2 separate regions of the Homo sapiens genome follow, and region 1 is linked to region 2. Evidence: fine-mapped expression QTL. A gene starts in region 2. The other region holds a variant in brackets. All regions are shown on one strand. Distances are between the middles of the regions. Region 1 overlaps VTI1B (vesicle transport through interaction with t-SNAREs 1B). Region 2 holds the start of RDH11 (retinol dehydrogenase 11).

Region 1 (2,913 bases), 42 kb before region 2:
ATCTTGACTCAGTTACTGCCCAAGAACCCTGACAACTCCACAAGGGTTTTATTTTTAAAAGTCTACTTCTTCCCTACAATATAGAACTTCCAGAAAAGGAGCTGACTCCCATGAAGGGCAAGCAGAGCCAAAAGCAAGTACTATGCAAGTGAAAACTACTTTCTAATCAAGATTTTACAAATATATTTCTTTTTTTTTTGAGACGGAGTCTCGCTTTGTCCCCCAGGCTAGAGTGCAGTGGTGCCATCTCGGCTCACTGCAACCTCCACCCCCCAGGTTCAAGCAATTCTGTCTCAGCCTCCTGAGTAGCTGGGATTACAGTGCCCGCCACTACGCCTGGCTAATTTTTTTGTATTTTTAGTAGAGACGGGTTTCACCATTTGAGCCAGACTGGTCTTGAACTCCTGACCTTGTGATCTGCCCGCTTCAGCCTCCCAAGGTGCTGGGATTACAGGCATGAGCCACCGCACGGGGCTGAGATTATATAAATATATTTCAAGGAATAGGAAGCTGTTATTCCCATGTGTTGCCTTCTCTAAAGAACATCAGCTGTGATTAAATGTCCTTTCAGTGGAGAAATTTTTCACTGCTCCAAGTCAAAGCAGTATATACTTTTAACAAATGATTTTATCCTGAGTTATTTAATTATCCAAGACCATATTCCTTAGCGTCTTTATTCTGGTCTGCTGGGTGGTACTGAGTATACAGGGACTATGCGTCAACTGCTGAGGTGCTTTATGAGGACCTTTGTAAGTCACTATTTTAAGCTTTTTGGTTGAAAGCCACTGAGTTAAGAGAAATTTCATGACTTTAATAAAACTTACTTTCTGGACATTGAACGGAGAATCTTCCGACTTTTGCTCAAGTTTTCACTTGTGTTTACCAGCTGAGAAGAGAAAATAGTGATTATTTCCCTCTTTAAAAAGTATACTCTGTACAATTGAATATCCCTAGATTAACAGTAGGCATTAAGGGATATATGTTGAAAAATTCCAAGAAATCAAGCCAATTTAAATGATGGCCTTTGAGTGTAAGTAGAAGAACCTGGAAAGGACAAGATATTTTAGTACTCATCAAGTAGGCTTAAGAATCATCTTCCCAGGTTGCTGCTGGGGATGGACTCCTGAGACTGAGCTAATCTTCTACCGTGGCTACTCCAAAAGGGAAGGCTTCAAGTGTAGCCAGCAGACTGGCCAGCCAGTGACTGTAGAGCAACTTAAGATTTGAATTTCATCAGCCAAATTCCAGGACAGCCTCTTGAGTTGGCATTTGTTTTTGTAGGCTGGTCTGTTACTGCTTTTGGGATCTGGTTTTTTTCTTTACCCTCTTAAGAGACAGTTACATTGAACTGTGAAAAGAATTAACCTCCATGGAACTTTCAACTGCTTGCTACTAATCTGGACAGCTGGAGGATATTTCACCTCCAGCAGATGGCTACTTGCCATCTGTTCCCATTCCCCAGTGGCCTTGGTAAGCTGACCTCTCAGCTCGTTCCTTGGCTTTTATTTATTTGAAACAGGGTCTCACTCCGTCACTCAGGCTGGAGTGCAGTGCTGCAATCGCAGCTCACTGCAGCCTCGACCTCCCAGGCTCAAGCAATAACCCCACATGTCCCCAAGTAGCTGGGATCACAGG[T/G]GCACGCCACCACACCCTGCTCCTTTTTTTGATTTTTAGTAGAGATGAGGTCTCGCTATAGAGATGAGGTCTCGCTCTAGAGATGAGGTCTCGCTATGTTGCCCAGGCTGGTTTCAAACTCCTAGGCTCAAGCCATCCTCCCACCTCAGCCTCCCAAAGTGCTAAAATTACAGGTGTAAGCCCGGCCTCCTTGGCTTTTAAATTCAACCAATCTACCTGGTATGTTCAAAAACCAAAACCCACACAATCTGTAAGCAAGTTACATTCTCCATAGCTTGCCTTGAATGTAGTACTTTATTGTGAATTTTCACTGAAGAGGGCAGGGCATTACTCTGACTTAATGGAGAACTGAAGCTATTAAGAAAATCTACTCAAATCTTCACACTGAGCTAGTATTTTCCTGTCCAAATCTTGGCCACAGTATGTTTTTCAAATTGATTTGCCTTCTGCTATTAAGAATACAGCATTCCATTGGTAAATTGTACCAATTAAAAAATTTTGCCCGGGCGCAGTGGCTCACGCTTATAATTCTAGCACTTTGGGAGGCTGAGGCGGGCAGATCATGAGGTTAAGAGATCGAGACCATCCTTGCTAAAATGGTGAAACCCCGTCTCTACTAAAAATACGAAAAATTAGCCGGGTGTGGTGGCAGACGCCTGTAGTCCCAGCTACTCGGGAGGCCGAGGCAGGAGAATGGCATGAACCTGGGAGGCGGAGCTTGCAGCGAGCCGAGATTGCGCCACTGCACTCCAGCCTGGGCGACAGAGCAAGACTCCATCTCAAAAAAAAAAAAAAAAAAAAAAAAATTCCAGCTGGGCACAGTGGCTCATGCCTGTAATCCTAGCGCTTTGGGAGGCCAAGGTGGAATGATTGCTTGAGCCCAGGAGTTCGAGAGCAACTTTGGCAACATAATGAGACCCCGTTTTTACAAAAAATTAAAACAATTAGCCAGGCACAGTAGCACATGCCTGTATCGCAGCTACACATGAGGATCACTTGAGCCCAGGAGTTTGAAGCTACAGTAAGTTAAAATTGCACTGCTGCACTCCAGCCTGGGTGACAGAGCAAGACCCTGTCTCTAAAAAACTAAAAAATTCCTATGTAGGTTAACTCATTTATGGAAAGGAAAAAATAAATGAGTTATTTTTCTGAGGCTCTCAGAGTGACAGCAGACTAGAGATCCCTGATATAGTCATCATTTGATTTAAATATTTGTTTTCTTTCCACAATGATCCAGCTTACCTTACTGGATAATCCTTAGACATTTTTTTCCCTATT
Region 2 (2,913 bases):
ACATATATATATATACACACACACACATATATATATATATATACACACATATATTTTTTTTTTTTCCAGAAAAATCCCTCTGGGGTATGAGCACTATTTTCAGTTCTGGTTCAACTTTTCATTGAGATTCTATGTGGATAAGAGGATCTTGTAGTGAAAAAAAGATAAAAAGCAGTGTTTTCATCTGAGTGTGAGAAACCATGTGTGCCTAGAGGTGGGAGAACTGAGTGTTCAGAAGGCAGAAAAAATATAACTGGAAGAGGGGCACCAGAGAAGGAAGAGAAAATAAAAATAAAAGAAGGAAAGTAGGTGACTGTGGTAAGAAATGACTGTGATCTGGCCTGGCTTCAAGTTCTATTGGGACTAAGACCGCCCACCTGGGGAAGGAGTGTGTCTGTCTATTCAGTCACTGGTCCGTCACCACTGGTGATTTACTTAGAACCAATAAGCAGGCTGCCGGTTTTACAGCCCGCTGCTGATTCACTGGGGCACTTGGCCAGCCTTGGGCTGATTGATCTATCACCTGGTCAATACCTTCCCACCATTCTCCCAGCCCTCACCGCCCCAGTACCCTAGCTCCTAACTCAGATCCCCCGTGCTCCTGCTCGCAAGGCAGGATAGAGCTCATAACCAAACACTCTTCCTTTTCACTTTTCTCCTTTACAACATCCGCCCACAGAACAAGCGATTGTAACAGCAACGAGAGAGCAAGGATGGGGCCGCAGATGTTACGATTGCTATCAGTTTCAGAGGGCGAAATGTGGAATCGCTCCTTTGTACCTCGAAGGCTGGTTTAAGGCGTGGGGAATAAGGGGAAAACAGCGTCGGGCCATATCCCATTGAAGAGTCCGAAACTCAAGCGTTTGAGGTAGCCTTACCCTCGGGATTCCCTGGAGCCAGAATCAGGGGGTGCTTAGACAAAAGAAAAACAGGCCAGGGAAAAGCAGTGTGCCCCGGACTGCCGCCCTTTCTCACCGCCTGGGGTCTCGGGTGTCCTCCTGGCACCCAGGACAGCTGGACCTCGCCTCCAACCCACCGAACTCTGGGCTCCGCCATCTTGGAGCCCCCCCAGGGGAGTTTTCCAAGAAAGCTTTGGTGGGGATTCTATGTTTCCCTCCCGCCCCGCAACAAGAATTCTCAAGAGAAGGCAATACATTTGCACAGACCTGATTTGGGGCGCAGCCATATACAGAAGGAAGGGCAGAAGGAGGAGCAACAGCGGGAACATGAGCTCAACCATCTCTGCCGGCTGCAGCGGCACCAGAGCGGGATGCTCCAGCGTTGCTCGCCGACTATGGCTTCTCTTTCTAGACACGCCCCAATTCAAATTGCGACAGCCCGGGGAGCAGACCTTCTGGGAAATGTAGTCCAGAGCTTGACAGCCTCAGGCTGGCTACGTGGGAGCGCTGCCGCCAACGCTGGCAGAAGTTGAATTATACATCGCTAATCCCCAACCATCTAGGGCTTAGGGCCTGTGGGATCATTCACCCAGCTCTCAGTTATTTTTTCTGCCTTCTGAATACTCAGTTCTCCCACCTCTAGGCACACATGGTTTCTCACACTCAGATGAAAACACTGCTTTTTATCTTTTTTTCACTACAAGATCCTCTTATCCACATAGAATCTCAATGAAAAGTTGAACCAGAACTGAAAATAGTGCTCATACCCCAGAGGGATTTTTCTGGAAAAAAAAAAGTATACACTATAGGAATAGTACACTTATTCCTATAGTGTACTAGGCACCGCGGTGTTTGTGAAATCTCTGCAGTCCTCTATCTCCCCAGACCCAAGTCCAGTGCCTGGTTCAGTTTTCCCCAATCCTGGTTAGGCAGTTACCGCACTGTTTCTCCTGGAGATCAGATGTTGGCGTCTGGGAAATGAAAGGCGGATTAGACAGGAGAGGAGCGGTCCGAAGTCTGACAGTTGGGAAGGTGGGGGAATGTAAACCCTTCCTCCTCGAGGATTCCTTTTTCCAGAGAAGAGGAAGCAATAAGTCCTTGAAGACATTCTCAGGAGAATCACTTTATTGTGTCTATCTTGAATTATGGTGGCAACTATCATGATTTTTCTAGTGTTTGAGTGTTCATTGATAATAGAATATCGTCTTCCTGATGGCTTGGGTCACATACATTAACTCCCAGGGTAGCAATGAATATCTCAGATTGGCACAGTTGGTTTTGCCAACTCGTGAAAGTATTTAATCCTGTCTTGAATTAAGGCCATGAATATGTTCTCTGTGAATAAATAGGTTCCCTGTTCAATAGTTTCTTTCATCTGAGGCCTATTTCCTGGGGGTGAAAGTGGAGGGTGTTTTAACCAATCAATATCTGTCTGTGATTCCTTAATTGTACCCAGTAATATTTTCTGGTCCTTTTGCATAATTTCCATTTGGTTAAAAGACACGGGTTCCAATGAACTAATATATTTTATAGCAAATTGGAGAAGAGAGGGTTTCCTTCACACAATACTAATTCCTACCAATTTAACATTAGATTACCTAGCAATCATCACATTTTGTCACATTCTCATTATTGTGTTACCTAATATTTGTATTGGGTTTTATAACTTTATAAAAGCCTTTCATTTGTTTTGTTCCTTATTCAGTCATTCACGCATTTGACAAACATTTATGGCATTCCTATAGTGTACTAGGCACTGTGCTGATGTCCAGCAGGAAGCCAGGAACACATAATCTCTGCTCGCCCGGAGTTCATGGACTGTCAGAGAAGACCTTAAATAAGTAATCACTGTAAATAAATCATGGTGAAGGTTATGAGGAGGATTAGAGAAAGCTCTGGGAGCTTTTACAAGGGAGAGGAGTTCTAGATCAGGAGAGGCTTATTTGAGGAAATAACATTTGAGCGGAGGCCAGAGGGAAGTTAGTAGGCAAGCAACATAGACAAGAGTGTGCTG

The links. PIP is the estimated chance that this variant, and not a neighbour inherited with it, causes the effect.
Region 1: its variant is the best candidate, but not a certain one, in a credible set for the expression of RDH11 in whole blood (TOPMed, PIP 0.57).

What each region holds. Positions count from the first base shown.
Region 1 is chr14:67,652,613-67,655,525 of GRCh38, forward strand. It overlaps VTI1B (vesicle transport through interaction with t-SNAREs 1B), which reads right to left. Exons shown (of 6, transcript NM_006370.3): 5 at 825-886. It also overlaps a transcript of GPHN not described here and the pseudogene COX7A2P1. Among named protein-coding and RNA genes, the nearest start is that of VTI1B, 21 kb to the right of the region's middle. The variant T/G (reference allele first, on the strand shown) is at 1,636.
Region 2 is chr14:67,694,464-67,697,376 of GRCh38, forward strand. It overlaps RDH11 (retinol dehydrogenase 11), which reads right to left and starts at 1,301. Exons shown (of 7, transcript NM_016026.4): 1 at 1,167-1,301. The coding sequence starts at 1,240. It also overlaps a transcript of GPHN not described here. RefSeq lists a silencer at 409-468 and enhancers at 818-1,454, 1,499-1,548, 1,569-1,618.